Regions from separate parts of the Homo sapiens genome. Here region 2 is linked to region 1. The links come from fine-mapping of genetic effects on gene expression. Tissue or cell type: testis. Region 1 holds a variant in brackets; the other region holds the start of a gene. All regions are shown on one strand. Distances are from middle to middle. Region 1 has its middle 26 kb from the start of OLFML3. Region 2 holds the start of OLFML3 (olfactomedin like 3).

Evidence for each region. PIP is the estimated chance that this variant, and not a neighbour inherited with it, causes the effect.
Region 2: OLFML3 starts here. The variant in region 1 is fine-mapped to the expression of OLFML3 in testis (GTEx, PIP 0.98).

Annotation. Positions count from the first base shown.
Region 1 is chr1:114,000,588-114,009,520 of GRCh38, reverse strand. It overlaps the pseudogene RPL13AP10. Among named protein-coding and RNA genes, the nearest start is that of OLFML3, 26 kb to the right of the region's middle. The variant C/G (reference allele first, on the strand shown) is at 5,417.
Region 2 is chr1:113,974,942-113,983,874 of GRCh38, reverse strand. OLFML3 (olfactomedin like 3) reads right to left here and starts at 4,401. Exons shown (of 3, transcript NM_020190.5): 1 at 4,245-4,401; 2 at 3,258-3,543; 3 at 1,622-2,926. The coding sequence starts at 4,358. The coding sequence ends at 2,106. HIPK1 (homeodomain interacting protein kinase 1) reads right to left here. Exons shown (of 16, transcript NM_198268.3): 16 at 6,006-8,933. RefSeq lists enhancers at 1-568, 1,824-2,656, 4,324-5,157, 6,463-7,040.

The sequences.
Region 1 (8,933 bases):
TGGCATGTGACTGTATATCAGTATATATGTTGATCAGATTTACACTATAATATATTGAGAGGAGATGAAGAAAGTGACTGTGAGAGATAATAAATGTTTATTGTTTTAACCTACTAAGTTTTGTGGTAATTTTTGTTTCTCACTACAAAAATGGAAAAGTGGAAAATAAATAGACAATGTCTAAAACAGAAAAAAGTAGCAATATAAGCTTGTTATTTAGAGATATGAAAGTGATATCCCAAAAAAGCTGACAACAGTTGGAGCTGGAGGATGTACTTCTAAGATGGCTCACTCACACAGCTGGCAAGTGAGCTCACACTGCTGGCTGTTAGCAGGTGGTCTCAGTTCTTCACCACATGGACCTCTCCATTGTGCTGTTTGAGTGTCTTCACAACATGGCAGCTGACTTCCTCCTGAGTGGGCAGTATAGGAAAGGACATAGTGGAAGCCACAATTCCTTTCATGACCTAGATTGAGAAGTCACATTCCATCATGTCTGGTATATCTTATAGCTCCACAGGTCAGCCCTATTCTATATGGGAGGTGACTACACAAAGGCATGACTTACTAACACGCAAGGATTGCTGGGGGCTATCTGGGAGGTTGCCACGCAAGTATTCAAAAAGTGGAAATTTGCCTGACACACTGAACCTCATCCTTAATTCTCTTAATGATAAGTACATAAAGAGGGAGGCCAGTGGCATAACTGCTCAGCCTTGTTCAATAGAGCTAGCCAGCCAGAGGCCAAAACCATATGTTCAAGTCTCTGAAGGTCTGACTTATCTGTGAATAAGACTAATGGAATCTAGAGGAACGGTGGGAATGCATGTCTTTTATCTCTATTAATGCTATTTTTTGCAACCAAGCATTTGGTAAATTTTGAGCTGCAGGGAGCTCAGTGTTATGCTGACAAGTACATGGGGTTCAGCTCCTCCCTGTTACCAATTAAGGGCAGCCTTATTCTTTAATAGGCTGGGCTGGAGATGGGCTGTCAGCCTCCTGTGAAAGTGCAGGAGCTTAGCTAGGGCACATGCTTGGCTGGAAGGAGAGCCTCTTGCATGTAATACCTGTCCTAGATGCAGACAGTCTTGGCATTTAGGGCATCCAACTTTAAATCCATGTCCTTCCTCCTTGTCCAAGATCAGAAAAATAATTTATTTCTTCTTTTTAGTTCTATCAACGCTTCAAAGTCTAGCTCTAAAGTCCCCCCCATCCCCCACCCCCCACATCCAGCCTCCCTCACTGCCTTCATGTCTGCTCTTCTGCCCCCTCCAGACCAGTATCCAGGCCTCTTGGGCCTCTTTCCTGCTCCCCTGTGCAACCTTACTGATACAGAGGGAATTAACCAAGACTGCCAAGGAAAGTTGGGTACAAAGCAGGACTCATAAGCAAACAGATGTGGACATATTGACTCCAACAAACAGCACTGTTTCATTCAGATGTGGGACAAACCCAGATACCCCTGTCAGCTTGTACCTTCCCAGACCTCAGGTTTGCTCAGAAGCCCTCTTACCTTTACAAAGTGTGCCTTTAGAAAAGGATGATTCCGGGGGCAGAGAGACACCCAGAAATGATACTCAAAATTATGTGTTTGTTCAGGCATTTCTTTTTCCTAGAAAATGCCTGAACATTTTCATCAGATTCCCAAGGCCCAAAGAGGTTAAGATTCCTTGTCAGTGGACACAAACCACGGCGTGCAGGCCAGATGGGGCCCTGTGAGGTTACTGGTTTGGACCACATACGGTTTTGGGAGTTTCGGCAACGTTTAAAAGTCAGATGATTTTGCGCAAAAATCCAGATTCCTGGCTTTTAAAAAAAAATGAAAAATGAAGCAACCTTGAGCCCACATCCCCTGGTGGCAAAAACTGGCTGGCCCAGGGCAGCAGCTGCCCTTCAGATGGGGCAGGGGCTCCCCACAGTCCCCAGTGGACACATTTCTTTTTGATGATTTTGTCTGCCATCTCCTAGTTTAGGTCCTTTGTTTAAGATCTTCAGAAACTGGTGAGTGTTTCTCCCAGCAGTTGGTTTTTATTGGTTTCAAGCCACTGTTCTCCATCTTCGGTAACTCTCCCCACCCAGCACCACACTTTCAACAGGAGCACACCCTCATGCACACCTTGGGGGGCGGGGAGCTCTTCTTTCTGCTGTGACATTTCATTACCTGTCAGAAAGACCGACCTGAGCAGGGTGCTCCTGCTGGAGTCTACCTGGCTGGAAACCAGACAGGCACCAACCCTGAGAGCCTGTTCACCTTGGTTTCTGGAATGGACATTAACAACCTCAATTTGCTCTAGATGTGACAGCTGTTGATATGGTTTGGCTCTGTGTCCCCACCCAAATCTCATCTCGAATTGTAATCCCCAGGTGTTGAGGGAGGGACCTGGTGGGAGGTGATTGGATTATAGGGGTGGTTTCCCCTATCCTGTTCTTGTAATAGTGAGTTCTTGCGAGATCTTACGGTCTTAAAAGTAGCACTTCCCCTTCACTCTCTGTCTCTGTCCAGCAGCCATGTAAGACGTGCCTTGCCTCCCCTTCTCCTTCTGCCATGATTGTAAGTTTCCTGAGGCCTCCCCAGCCATGCAGAACTGTGAGTCCATTAAACCTCCTTTTTAATAAATTACCCAGTCTCAGGTAGTATCTTCATAGCAGTGTGAAAACTGAGTGACACTGCTATCATCAGTAATAAGGGTGATACTCTGTTCTCCACCAGACCATACATTGTCTATTTTCTCTCTTTAGACTATGGATTCAGGAATTGCATTGCTCTTCACTTACTAATTCTGTGACCTTAGAAAAGTCACTTAATCTCTCTTCTGCCTCAGTTTCCTGGGCTGTAGAAAGAGGATAATAGTGTCACCCTTATAGAATTGTCATAAAGAGGAAATGAGAAGATCTAGTTTTAAATGCTTAGCCTAATATCCAGAACATTGTAAGAACACAATAACTATAAGTTATTATAATTTCTGATCTCAGTGACTTAAAAATTAAACCAAACCAAAACAAGAAAATCAAAAACAAAATAAATACTGATTTTCTCTGACTGGAGCCTTGTTCCTCAGCTCAACCCTTCTTCCCTTTGATGGTTCCCCAAAGTGGCTCCAGGAAATTCCCAGGGATCCTCCAGACATAGTTTGTTTTTTTTGTTTTTGGTTTTGTTGAGACAGGATCTCACTTTTTTTTTTTTTTTTTCGATCCTGGTCTCACTTAGGTTGGAGTGCTGTGGTACAATCATAGCTCACTGCAGTGTCAATCTCTTAAGCTCAAGCAATCCTCCCACATCAGCCTCCTGAGTAGCTGGGACTACAGGTGCATATCACCATGCCTGGCTATTTTTTTTTAACTAGAGATGGAGTCTCACTATGTTGCCCAGGCTGGCTTTGAACTCCTGAGCTCAAACAATGCTTCTACCTCAGCCTCCCAAAGTGCTGGGATTACATGCAACAGACACCACACCCAGCCGGACATAGTTCAAACCAGTCTCCTAGCTGCTGAAATGGCCCCCCACTGACCCTATGCTGGAGCTCAGACACCTAAGAGTAGCCCTTTACTCCTCTCTCCCTTCCCCCCACATTCAGCAATCCCAGGTCCTGTCATCCACAATCCCTCCTAAATTTCTCCCTACCTCTTCACTGTTCTCAACCCCACTGCTACTACCCCTGCCTTTGTGGATTTTTTCTTTCACCTATGAAATTCAATAATTCACTCATTTAGCCAATATTTATAGGTACCTACTATGTGCCAGGCTGAAGGCACCTGGTGAGACAGCAGTGAGCAAGACAGACACATACCTGCCCTCAAGGGGTTTCCATTCTACTGGAAGGAGACAGAAAATAAACAAAGAAGTAAAAGCTATAGTGAGGTAGATGGAGAAAACTACAACATGGAAATGGAACAGGGAGTTGAGGGTAGGGGACTACTTTAAATAAAATGGCTAGGAAGGCTTCCCTGGAAAGGAGACATTCCAGAGAGAGGCACAAAGGCCCTGAGGTCGACATGGCTGGCTTGTTTAAGGATCAGTGTGGCTGAACCAGAGAAGACTAGCTGGAGATAACGGGTCAGCCTGTGTGGGGCCTGATAGGTCCTTGGAATGGCTCTGGGCCTTTACCATGAGTGCAATAAGAAGCCGTAACTAAGATCTCCCCATTTCTCACCTGCATTACTGCAAGAGTCTCCTATCTGGCCTCCCTCAGGTGTCTGCCCAGCCTGTTAACTTTTTATAATTCCTATTCTTAACACCTTCAACAGGTTGCCAGAAACTGCCTATTTCCCTGTTAAAGCTTCAAAACTTTGTGATTTGCACTTAGGCCTATCTCCTTCACTTTTCTACAGCCACTACCCAAGCAACGCCCCCTGCCCTGGGTAATGGAGGACTGATTCTAATTCCCTGTGCGGCCCACAGCCTCTCACTCCCTTTTTGTTCCAGCTGTTTCCTCTGCACTCAGCATACATCCCCTTTCCCCTCTGATATGGTTTGGATCTGTGTCCCCGGTAAATCTCATGTTGAAATGTAATTCCCAGTGTTGGAAGTGGGGCCTGGTAGAAGGTGTTTGGATCACGGGGTCAGATCCCTCATGAATGGCTTAACACCGTCCCCTTGGTGAGGAGTGAGTTCACACAAGATCTGGTTGTTTAAAAGTATGCGGCACCTCCCCACTTCACACTTTCTCTTGTTCCCATTCTTGCCATGTAAGATGCCGGCTCCCCCTTTGCCTTCTGCCATGATTGAAAGCTTCCCGAGGCCTCACGTGAAGCTGAGCAGATGCCAGTGCCATGCTTCCTGTACAGCCTGCAGAACTGTGAGCCAATTAAACCTCTTTTCTTTGTACATACCCAGCCTTAGGTATTTCTTTATAGCAATGCGAGAATGAACTAATACACCTTCCCTCTCTGCTACTGCTCAAGTGCTTCCCTAACCAGCCTGAGGTGGAGAGGAGAACATCCCCCGCCAGGAGGTTCCCCATCCTGTGCATATGTCATTGTCCATTCATTCATCTGTCTGCCCTAGTAGAGCTCTTTGAAGGCAGGACAGTGCTCAGCACAATTCCTTGCACCAAATAGAAGCTCAATCAAACGTTGGTTTAAAAATGAGTGATCCTACCCTCTTCGAACCCAATCCATTAAGCTAAAACTTGCCTTTTCATCTGTTCCTAGGCACTTCCTAGCACTTGGTTTCTAGCAGTAGTCACAGTCCAATCTTTATTAGTTACATGTATATATGTGTTATATCCTCTCGTGGGTTACAAACTAACTGACCAGGAATATTGGAGTTAATTTTTACAACCACATTCCACTCTCATCCCTGCACTGCCTAGAACAATGCCTCCCACAGGGAGAGCCTCATAAAATTAAGAGTATGGGCTTTGGTATCAGACTGGCATTTGTATCTTGGCCTCCTGGCCTGTGTGGCACCGGCCAG[C/G]CATTTTGTCTCTTAGCTTTGCTCTCCTTTTTTTGGAAAAAGGGGATGCCTAGCTACTGGAGGAGCGAAAGGAGCCGCTGCACAGGGTTTACCATTGATTACGGGCTCAACAAAGGCTGTTGTTATCATTGGAGGCACTGTGCAGTATTTCTCAAACTTGTCTAAAATTCAGTCCCTTTTAAAGGAGAAAAATTTTCATAGGATCCCAGGAAACATATATGCAAAAACACAGACTTCAGTTTTGTCTTTATAAATGGTATGAGTTTCTGTAAAGCTTATCATAAAATTGAAAAGTCGAAATTCCAGCAATGCTTGGAGAACTAGCAGAACATAAGACTGCATCCACAGACTCCAATCTAAGAAGTTTTTGTTTACTAAGTGGACTTGGGGCAGAACCATAGGCGGGGGAAGGCAGGAGGCCACTTCCTTTGCTGGCAGTGTGGCTTCCCTTCAGATGACATTCTTCACAGTGGGCTGCAGAGACCAGAGATTTTTGTTCTTCCCATGGGGATTGGGGTAGGGGAAGTGGGAGGGGAACATGTGAGGAGGAGCCAAAAGGCCAGTGGTTTGTCCCTGGTGGCTCTAGCCCGGTGTGGGTCCAACCTGTGTGTGTGCGAGACCTCCCACACGAGCCCTGGAGCCAGCAGTGCCTTGCATATGATGGAGGGGAGTGGGACTGTAGCAAGAAGAGGGCTCATGAGCAGAGGCAGAAAGAAGTTCAAGGAAAACGGTGGAAGTCAGAAATTGTGTATCTCTAGCAGATGGGAAATTCACCACATCAAGAGAAGGTCATCCAAAGCAAAGAAGAACCGGGGCAGCTAAATGTAAAGAGAACCCCTGGCCCTCCTCCTTCCCTGCCCCAGACCCACAGGGTCAAAGGAAGCCTTGCAGGGGCTGAGGATCCCTTGGGGTCTGCTGCACAGCTGGTCTGTAAATGTCACTTCTCAACCCAGCCTCCCCCAACACACTCCTCCCCTCTCCTCTCCCCACTAGCACAAGCCAGTCTCTGGGAGTCACCCTGGCCACAGACCCAGAGTAGAAACATGCAGAGATTTTGCAACTTGCGTTTCAAAGAGATGTGAAGAGCTCCTGCCCCACCAGCAGCATATGGTAGCTCCTCCCACAGAGACAGGCCAAGGCCTCCGTAGTAAACAGACCAACTGGTCACATCCCCCCTCACAAAGCCTAAATAAAAGCCTAAATGATCATGACAGCCACTAGCAGACTCGTTCTGTGAACGCAGGGATCGTGGACATTCAGAATGAATCTGGGAGACAGCAGCAGCTGCCCAGGAGCAAGCGCCTCCTCTGCAGCTCTCTTTCCTCATTAGAGACCCTCACTAGAAACTATCACGCTTGGAATGCTATTCTTCTCCCCTCAGGAGACTTTGGAAAGAGCACGGTGACATTAAACCAAGCCCAGCACACTAAAATGTTCCCAGTGGCAGCTTTGCAGGGGCATCAGTGCTGTGATCCTGCAGCGACTGAATGTGAAGCCGCTCCTGGGAGCTCCCACCCGCCTCAGCGCTGGTGGGGACAGGAGAGCGCCAGGGACACGCCACTTCCAGGAAAGAATTTTGGATTGTGGAAGAGCGAGTTCTGCTCTAAATCACTGCAGTGCACCCCAACCAGTACTGAAAGAGAGAGAAAGTCGGCTGTTGCCCACAGAGCCCAAAGCACCAAGCAGAACTCCTTTTCCTCCACGTCTCCTTCGCCCACTTGCTTCCTTCCGTAGCCACTGTAAATTGGAAGGGTTTTCCAGAGGGCAATTGGCAATGTATGTCTAAGGTCTTACTTCTAGGAATTCAACCCGCCCAGCATAATCTGTTTTGTTTCCCCAAGCGGCTATCGAAGATGGCGTAGGGGTGAGGGGCAGGTCCTGGTGCTTGAGGCCGAGGCCACCTCTGGGGACGCGGGGGCCATCGTGGCTAAGCAGGCACTGCTGGGCCGGAGGGTGGGGGTCGTGCACAGCGAGGGCATCAGAATTTCTGGCAATTTCTTTTCTTTTCTTTTTTTTTTTTTTTTTTTTTGAGACGGAGTTTCGCTCTGTCACCCAGGCTGGAGTGCGGTGGCACAACCTCGGCTCACTGCAACCTCCACCTCCCAGGTTCAAGCAATTCTCCTGCCTCAACCTCCCGAGTAGCTGAGACTACAGGCACGCACCACCACGCCCAGCTAATTTTTGTATTTTTAGTAGAGACAGGGTTTCACTATGTTGGCCCATTTCTGGCAATTTCTACAGAAACCAGGTGAAGTACCTGGCCTTCCTCCACAGGTGGATGAACACCAACCCTTCCCGGACCCCCACCCTTCCTGGGCCCCCATATACCTGGTTTGGACCGCGCGAGGCCAAGCCTCCCAGGACCGCCTCAAGGTGTGTGCTGGGATCCCACGGCCCTGCGACAAGAAACAGCTGAAGGTTGTTTCTGCGGCCCTCCAGGTGGTATGTCTGAAGCCTACAAGAAAGTTTGCCTGCCTGGGGTGCCTGACTCACGAAGCTGGCTAGAAGTAGCAGGCAGTGACAGCCACCTGCAGGAGGAGAGGAAGGAAAAGGCCAGGATTTACTCAGGGAAGGAAAAGCAGCTCTTAAGGCCACAGAAACAGGCAGCAAAGAACATGGAGAAAACTGACAGATACGCAGAGGTCCTCAAGACCCATGGACTCCTGGTCTGAGCCCAATAAACACTGCTTATTCCCCCAAAAATAAATAATAAAATAAATAAACAACTAAACAAATCATCTTTTTTTTTTGGTTTTCTAACGTATATAAGTGTTATCTTTACAGTGTTATTTGTAGTAAACATAAATGGCCCAAAAAGAAGGGATCATTTGAGTTAATGATGGCATTTTTGTGTAGTGGAATGCTATGTAGCTAACAACAAAAAAACTTTTGAAGAAAAAATTATGATATGGGGGAAATTCTCATGCTATGTTAGTAATCTTTAAAAAGCATTTTCCCAAACATTATTTCTGATATTTCCAATGATGTAAAGCCAGAACAAAACAGAAGTATGTATTAAAAGTCTAGAAAGCTACATCATTGTGTGGTGGGTATATGGATAATTTTTTTCTTCTTCGTACTTTTCAGATTTCCTATAATTTACCTGTATTACTTCTCTAAATAGGGTATAAAAAGCAATAAATTGTCTTCCTAAAAGACAGACACATACTTTTACATGATATGTATGCTTTTAGAGCAAACATCACTTTGCCCCTGAGAAAAGGTCAGAGTTGGGAAAGGGCAGATGAACGCAAGACAGAGCCATTGACAATGAAAAATCAACTGTCAGGGCCGGCTACATAATTCCCAGGCCCTGTGCAAAATGGAAATAAGGAGTTCCTTTTTCAAAAATTAAGAATTTCAAGACAGCAACAGCAGAACATTAAACTAAGCTCAACCCCTTCTAAGTGCAGGGTTCTGTGCACCTGCACAGGCCACATGCCTAGGAAGCTGGCCCTAGTCACAAGTTTGAAGCAAGACACCCTGACCCAGCAGGTGAGGGTTTATAGACAGGTAC
Region 2 (8,933 bases), 26 kb after region 1:
CACACTCATACAGCCACACAAGCTAGCAGACAAGCTCCCCTGCCACATGCAGGCACATATACACATACACGTACACATACGCAGTCACACTAGGGAGCAGACAAGCACCTCTGCCACACACAGGCACCTCCCACCCCCAACACACACACACACACACACACACACAGTCACGCTAGGGAGCAGACAAGCTCCCCTTCCACATGGGGCACCCACAGTCCCCACACTGCTCTGCCAGCCGTGTGGCCCAGACCCCATTCTCCAGGCCTGTGCTCAGAATGCCCTTCCCCCTCAACCCCTCCCTGTGCACCACGTGTGCCGCAGCCAGCTGTTCTGTGGGCAGACCCTTCCGTGGGCTGACAGGTGGTGATTACTGTTGCCAGCCCCACATTAGGAGAGAATTCAATGGGAGAGAGCCCCTGCCCGCCCCGGTCTCCCTATAATAGCGCCTTTCTGAGGTGCTTCACTGTCTTTCTTTCCCCATCCTCATCAACCTACGTCTGGAGCAGCTCTGCCTGAGGAGAAAAGAAAAGAAGATAAAGGGAGGCTCACAGGGCCCTGACTGAGCCACCCCACCTGGGGCGGGAAGGAGGGCTGTGCTTTGGGGAGAAGGCTGTGCCCCCTTCCCGCACTTGGCTAGAGCAAATAACCAAGAGGACCCCCAGGCATGCCTGAGGTGGACTCCTCATGAAAGCAGTGGATCCTGCCCATCAGCCAGCCTTGCCCCTGCGAGCTGAGCATGCAGCAGTGAGGGTGAGGCTGGGGTGGGGGCCTGGTGCAGAAATCAGCAGATTCCTGGAGACTGGAGTCCAAAGCCTGGAGCCTTCCTCCTCCTCTCCCTTCTCCCTTCCCTCTTCCCCACATTACGCTCTGCAATCCAACGCCAGAGGCCAGGGTATGGGCCAGAGAGGGTTAAGTTTCCAGAAGTCCTGACGGGCTTCAGCCAGGTTCAGGGCTGGAGTGGGTAGGTGAGGGTGATGAGAGTGGAGAAAAGGAAAGCAAGAATAGGCTGCAGACCGTGTAAGGCCAACATCTGGGACACGGTCACTGCCCCTCCTCCCTGCACAAACCGCAGACGCCGTGGCAGCAGGAAAATCAGAGCGGTCCAGACCAAGAATGATTGTGCAACCTGGCCCTGCAGGAGCACAACGCTGGAGGTGGGAGTGGAGGTCTGGGGTGCGGGGCAGAGTCCACTTTAGAGGGGAGACTTCAGTTCTTACTAAAAACACAGGCATTCAGGGCTCTGGTTTCCACACTAGAATGCAATGCAACTAACATGCATTTTGTAGTTCAAAATCCTCTGAGAATCGGAACTGGAATCTCTGCCCTGGGCCCCAGTGTCTCACAGCCAGAGGCACGGTGCCACTGAGGTTCTAGGATGGCTGCTGTGGATTGGCTGCTGTGGATGGCGGTGGGTGTGGAAGGAGGCCTTTCGTCCAGCCTCCTAAAGTGGCGGGATTCTGCCACCTCCCCCAGGCGCCTCACAGTAAACTCTTCCTCAGCAAAGGGAGCCCCGCCCAAGTCTTTAATATGGCTCAAGGAGTGGGGATGGGTTGGGAGGGAGAAACTGGATGGTCAGGGGGAAGTTTGATCTGAGGGCTACCCCAAACAAACACAGGAGAGGAGCAGTGGATTTTCCTTTTAATGCAAAATGTTGCAATACAAAACAATGTGGAGAAAGTCCTGTTCCTCAGGACACTGAAGGGAGGAGTGAGGAAGAGAGGACAGAGCTGGACGTCTCCTCCTATTTCTCCCTCCCCAAGTCACTCTGAGGGGAAGAACACTGCTGCCTGCTCCCTGGGCCTGCCCGCATACAAGGTTAGAGCCCTGGGTCTGGGGCATCCTTAGCCTGAAATTTGTTGACATGGGGCAGGAGAGCAGGAGGGAACATTGAGGGTTTTGACTCTTCGGGCTCTAAAAGGATTACTCAGGATCTGGAGTTCCGTATGAAACAAAGGAGCTGAAAGAATTTGATTGCCATTGGCTAAAAATATAGAGGATTTGAGCCACAACTGGCCCACATTTGAAGAATGAGGAACAAGAAATTTAGTGGGGATATAATATAAATGTATGGGAGTGAGAAAGATGCAAAAAACAAGGCTAGCTCCTCAAACCTCCTCCTCTTTCTTCCTCATCTCCAGCTTATAGACAATCTGGTAGCCATCATCCCAGGCATAGAGCTGGCGTTCTCGGGGGTTATAGCGGAGGCTGGCATGGGCACCATATCTGCGGGGAAAATAAGGGAGTGCTGCCCGTTCAGGGGTCAGGGTGCCGCTGGCATCAAAGGAGCACTGGATGCGGGCCCGACTGGCAGGACGGGTGTTATAGACGACATAGAGGGTCCCACAGATGACAAAGGCAGCCTCAGCATTCTCTCTGGGACATGGTGTGTCCCACTGCTGCTCTGTGTCCAGTGTCTGTGGATCTAACTTGGCCAGACACAAGTGCCTGTCATCCTCCCGGGTGGCATAGACAGCCCAAAGACCTTCCTCATCAGCTGCCAGGTCGATGTAGGTGTCTGCTGTCAAGCCGTAGGGGGGGATCAGCCCCTCTGCTGGGAATACTGAGCTGTCCACCACTGTTCGGTTTGCCAGGTGGAATTTGATTAGCTGCAAAGTGTTCTCCATCTCACCACCTCCACCAGGTCTTCCAGGAGGCCTCCGAGCAAAATAAAGAAAGCCACCATATACCAGCTGCCCTGTGCCTACCCAGGGGAAGGGCACCCGGACTCGGGAAGCTTTCCGGGCAGCCATGGCAAGGGTGAAGTCACGCAGCCTTGGGAAGACAAAGGCTGTGTCATTCTGTGTCCCATCTAACACGTAGATCTTCTCTGTTTGCCCCAGTGGATCCTTGGTCCATAGACCAGCTGGGCCACCAAATCGCTTCAGAATCTTCATTGATCTCACTTGAGAGATTGTGTAGCCACAGTCTGATGAGAAAAGCACAGGAAAAGGAAATAGAGGCAAGAATTAGATGCCTCCAGCAGGAACTCCCCCAGGGTGGGTGATCTGGAGAATAGTGAGCATTTGCCCAGTGGTTGCCTCCAATCTTAGGGAGAATTGAGAAAGAGCGGGTACCACAGCGGCCTGGATCCCCAGAACCTCTCCTTAATAGACCTGGCATTACAGAGGTTTCCCTAAAACAGATTCCAGAAGACAGAGCCACAATGGACTGGGACAAAGCGAAAAAAAGAGTAAGAAGCAAGGAAGGAAGAATATCGGTTCTGAGAAGAGTTAGGGGCCTGCTTTCAGATTATTTACCTGTCACCATATCGTACTTCTCATTCCTTCTTCCCTTGCCTTTGGTCCCAGGGCCTCCAGTCACCTTCTCATCAAACTCTACACAGGGCAGAGCTGGGTTCTGGGTCTCCAGATAGTCTACCTCCCGCTCCAGACGATCCACTCTCCCGGAGATGGTGTCGGCCTCAGTTCTGAGTGCCTCCCGCTCCTTCTCTGCCACCTCCAGCAGTGGCAGCATCTTGTTCTTGAAGTCCCGCAGCTCAGCAGCATGCCGACTACTCTGGTCCTGGCACTGGGCCAGCCGTTCCTGAAGGGATGGGGGATCAGGAGGGAGGCTGCAGGGTTACAACTCCCAGGCAGGGAGAGGCCCAACTCGGGAGTCAGGAATGGGAAAAAAAGAGCAAACTCAGCCAGGCTTCAATATCCCCTTCCACTCCTGCAGAAAAGGAAACCAGATGTGCAGAGGTGCTAAATGTGCAAAGAGCCTAGCTGAGATTCACCTAGGCCCCTACCCCGACTCCATGTCCTCCAGCCTGTGTTCTCTGTGAGCAGTGCCACTGAGCCATCTGAGCCTCTAGGCAGGTCTAAGCGCATGAAGGTGTGAAGAGGTCTCTGCTCCCTTAGCAATTATCCTCTCGGACACTAAAATGCTACGGATCTCAACCTGTTAAAAAGACAGGAAGTTATAGATTCCCCGGGAACCTCCAACTTCAACAGAATCATCACCTTCTCTGGAGATGCAGCCCCACAATTTTGGCTCTCGTTTCCACTCTGCCCCCTTATTCTATCTAATCCCAGAGGTAAAACGCAAAAGTCGATTTGCTTTGGAATTGTTCTATGTGGGGTAAGAGGAGGGCTTGTCATTCCGAAGGTCCTCTTATTAAGAGAGAATTTTCTGTAGACTCTAACAGAGCCCTTTCTTGTTATCCCCAGATCCCTAACAAACTGGTTGAACCAATAGCCCTGGAATCCTTCTAGGCGGGGCTAGAAGAGAAAGGGGTCCCTCACCTCTAAAGCAGCTAGTCGGCGTTCCATGTACTCCACAAGGTGGTGCTGCTGTCCTTGGAGGGGTCCCGACCATGACAAAAGGAACAAGATGAGGAGAGGGGTGCTGGGCCCCATGGCAGCCTGGAGAGTGGTGCCAGAGTAGAAGGAACGTACAGTCAGCCTCTTCCCCTCAAGCCCGAGGGTTAGCTTTGGAGGCGGGGTGGGGGCGGTGCCTTCTCTCCTGATCTCTGGGTCTCTCTCACTACTCTGGAATGCTTTCAGTTCTCTTTACAACCCCCACCCCCTCCTTTCCGCCAGGATTGATCAAACACAGATGGCCCCATTGCACAGCAGCCAGAAGCCTTAACCACCTCCCGCCTAGGCTGTAGGGTCCTCTGGAGGGGAAAGAGATGGAAACCCGAAAGCAGAGGCCTTCTAGGCAGTCAAGCAGGGAAGCTAGCTGCAGAAAGCAGAGACCCCAGAGAAAACTCAGCAAACGCCATTCCTGTTTTAGGAAAGTTTCACCAGTGCTGACTTAAGAAACTGACATTTTTCATTAATCTTTCCCTTTCCCTGCAATAGAGTGGGTTTTCAGCCTTGTTCAGTAGAAGCTGGGAGCTGGGGAGGTGAGGCTTGAAGGGAGGAAGCAGGAAAACAATGGCCCAAGTGGTCAAGCCCAACTTATTCTAAAGCTCATTGGCGCCACCTTGTGCTAAGCAGCTGGTGTCATCTCTCATGATAATACAGAAACTAAGGCTTAGACTTCACCCCATGAGGAAAATTTTCCACAAAAGCCAAATATATTGAATTTACAGGGGTTTTCACCACTGAAATGCATATTTCCCCCAAGACTATCCAATTACTACTTTGGGGGCTATGCAAATATCTGATTTAGCCCAAGGAAGAAAATATAACTGAGATTAAAAAAAAAAAAAAAACAGGTCACTGAGAAGTTAGTAAATTAACTCGATCGTCTGGAAGTTAAGGCTGACAGCAGCGCTGTTTTACATGGCTTTCCTTTGCTTGAAAGAGGCCAGATATAGTCTCTCACCAAAACTGAGGAGTGTTCAGTGAGTTCACACTAATTTACTATACATTCATGTATTGCGGGGGGGCGGAATCTGATATATATATATATGTTGTTGCAGTCTAGATCAATGTATTCTGACTTCCTTACCACTGGGAGAAAAGACTATTGGTTATTTCTCTTGGTTGTGGTCCAAAAGGGTATTTCTGAGTGTTTCTCATTTCTATATCCCAACTAAGGCTGCAGGAGCCCAAAATGAATTAATGGCCACCATAAGGTAGACTTGGGCCATAAGGTAGACACACGGGCCGAAAAAAAAAATCAAATAGAGCATTTACTCAGAGACCTGCAGTCATTAATCGAAACAAACCCCTATTTCTTTATCGGGAGAAATTCTATTCACTTTAGAATCAACAGAATCTGATGAGAGGTTCCTTCTGTAAAAAGGACCATGACTCTAACAGTACAGTTTGAAAGGAGGGGAAAAATAGCAGCTTCCTGTGGTTACTCATCTTTTCATTCTGCTACTGCTATCTGGCAAAACATATGAGGAAACAAAGCTTAATTAGCCGGTCTCAGAAGTCTTCTACCTCTTTCAAAGGGTCAGATCCAGATGATGTGAAGTAAGGACCCTGGACACTGCATTCTTGGGAAGTATTCCCTGCCAAACCCTATTCATTTCCAGTATGGAGATTTGTGTGAAGAATGAAATTGTCTCTAGTACTCTACTGATGTTCAAATACAATATGCTTAGCCACTTTCAAAGATGTCATTTATTGATCCCCTTTATATCCTATAACAGAAGTCAAAAACAGCCACATAAGTCAGAAAATTTACCCATTTTATTGATGCATTGCAATTGCTCTACATTTTACCATATTATGTAGAAAATACTGAAAATACAAGCTACTTTGTAAAACCAAAGACAAACATTGAATCCAAAGATAAACTATGTTTTACACAATGGACCCTTTTCCCATAGTTAGTATTAAATTTTAAATATCTATTTCTTTTGTTAAAATGATTATTTTACATACTCCCTAAGTACATCTGCATTACAAACATAGCTCAGTAATTCTCAGAAACTATCTGTTTCTAGAGGCTTGTTGTAAAAGAAAGCGCACAACCAAAAAAAGGGAGAAAGCAAAAAAAGTTTAAATCGCACACAATAACTAGCATATCAAATACATTTAATAAAGTAGGAATTCCATTGCAATATCAAGGATTCAAAGCAGAAATACTAACATTACATATAATGTACATATAATGTACTGCTACATGTAGTGAGATTATTTTTCAAGCTGAATTGAAACCACACATTATATAAAGTTTAGCAACAAACAACCATGTAGACATGCTGCACCATCTATCAGTTAAAAAAAAAAAAAATCAAAATAGGAAGCAGGCTCGGGCCACTCCTGTCACTGAGAGGCAATTTCATTTCCTATCCTAAAACAAACCATCTCAACTAGTGAATTTTTGCATAATAATGCTGAACAAAACACACATTACTGTGCTTGCCTGGCTAAGGGCAGTCAAGCTTAGCCCCTCTAGTGGAGGACAATGGATGAGCAATCACAAAAGCAGGCTCAGAATGGCCAGAACTGTTTGAAATGGAGTTCTTATTCCTGGGGTTGGTATTTCAGCTGAGCACTGAAAATAATATCACCTCCTGGGAGCTATTAAAAACTCTGGAGTGACCAAGTGTCCCTATGAGCCCAGAGTGGCTACACTGAACCCTTCTCCGCTTCTTCTCTCACCCGGAAAGGAAGAAGTTGGAAATGCCAAGTTCTGAGAGAGGACTTAAAGCCTTAAGCTGGTTTGAGGTCAGGTCACTGTGACCCAGGCCAGCTGCTCACTAAATTCACCAGGCTTCCTCCCTTCCTGTCAGGGCCAACAGGGCTAACCCCAGGGACAGAATCTAAAGCCACAGTGAGCACATACATACACATTCAGCAGACACAGGTGGATTTTTATGCTGGAAAATCGGAAATGCCAGTTTGCAGACTAAGACTGAAAAATCTCTAGTTTTTAAAGCCACACACTGCTAGGCAAGTGACTAAGGTAACAATACAAGCTCTTGGTATTATCCTTTTCTGTGGAGTTTAGACTCCTATCTTAAGTGGTATCTGCTTATTGGACTGGGGTGCAGGAATGGGATTTGGTTTTCTTTCCTGCATCTCATTTCTTACAAAAACAACAAATCTTGTCCCTTACAGAAAAAAGACAAGGAACAAAAAATTTGTCCTTTAGAAACTAGACCTGTGTTCCAACAAGAAAATCAGAATGTGCTTGGCAAAAAGGAGACACAAAGATCACACATGTTGACCAGAAAACTGTATGACACTAGTGACAGAAATTATACAAACTGCTTGGCTATCTTGACCAATATAGTGCTGAAAACACAACTCAATATAATGATTTTAAAAAATAAAGAAAACACAACATGTTCCTGGTAGGCTGTACGGACTACCTGCCCCATCTTGGAAGCCCTTACTCCTTACAATGAAGAAACTCCAAATACTTTGACAGCTCCTCGGTGTTCAACCTGGTACAGAGCTGGCTGACCAGGCTCCATGAAATCTCCCATCTCCATCCTGCACCTCCTTGACACCATCTCTATCTACACAGAACCAGTCCTAAAATTATATCTCAAATATATCATTTTCAATTCAGATGGAACACACCTGTATTTTAGGATTAATCTTCTTTCCCCAAATCCTTTATGGGCAGGAATGTCCCCATCCCCAGTACCTTCTACTTGACCCAGATCCATGCAGGAGCTGAGAGTACAAGGACAATTTCACAGCTTGAAGGGCCCCAAGACTATACAAGCTGTTAAAAAAGAAACCTCAAAAGCCTCAATGACTCAACAGGCTTTGGTTCCTTCTCTATATTCTTCACCAGCTAAGAAACCTTTCTGTGAGTTCCTTGTCACCAGCGGCACCACAAAACTTCTCCTCATAGTATGGGGACATGGTAAGCAATACAACAGGCTCTTTGGTATAAACACATCTGTTAACATGTTTTTTTCAACAAGCAAATATTTTACTAGGAATGTCAACTATGTGCAGGAAGGACTGCCACATGGGAAAAGGAAAAAAAAATTCATTCTAAAAGTGATTGCACATACTTTAAAAGAATGCATATTTAATATTGGCTTGACTCCTCTCACCTGCTTCCTGAATTCTCACAGAAGCAAGGTAGCAACGCACAGTGAGAGAGCCACATGGGGAAAATGCTTCTGTGAGAACTCAGCCGAGAATCCAAAATGGAAAGGGGTAGAGGTGGTGGTAAAGGAGAAAAGCTGCTGTTTTTATTTTTCAATGTTGGCAGGGAAACTGAGAACAATGCATTACACAATACAGCTACTAATCCTGTTCTGATAAATCCCGGTGAACAACTTAGGGTCCACGGGGGCTTGCTGGTCCATCCTAAGGCAAGCTCACTGTAAACTCTATTAACCACTACATTATCATATAAGGCACTACAATAAGGGAAGGAGGAAGAAAGGGAAGGAAGAGACACACACTGAAAAACTCCTCACCAGACACACCTGTGCAAAACAATTCCAAGGGTCTCCTCTCCTTGCAGGCAATGCCCCTGCTCATTCAGCACTACAGTAATATGCTCTAATATAATTGCAATTAGTTCACATACATTCCAACAAGTATCAGTTCATT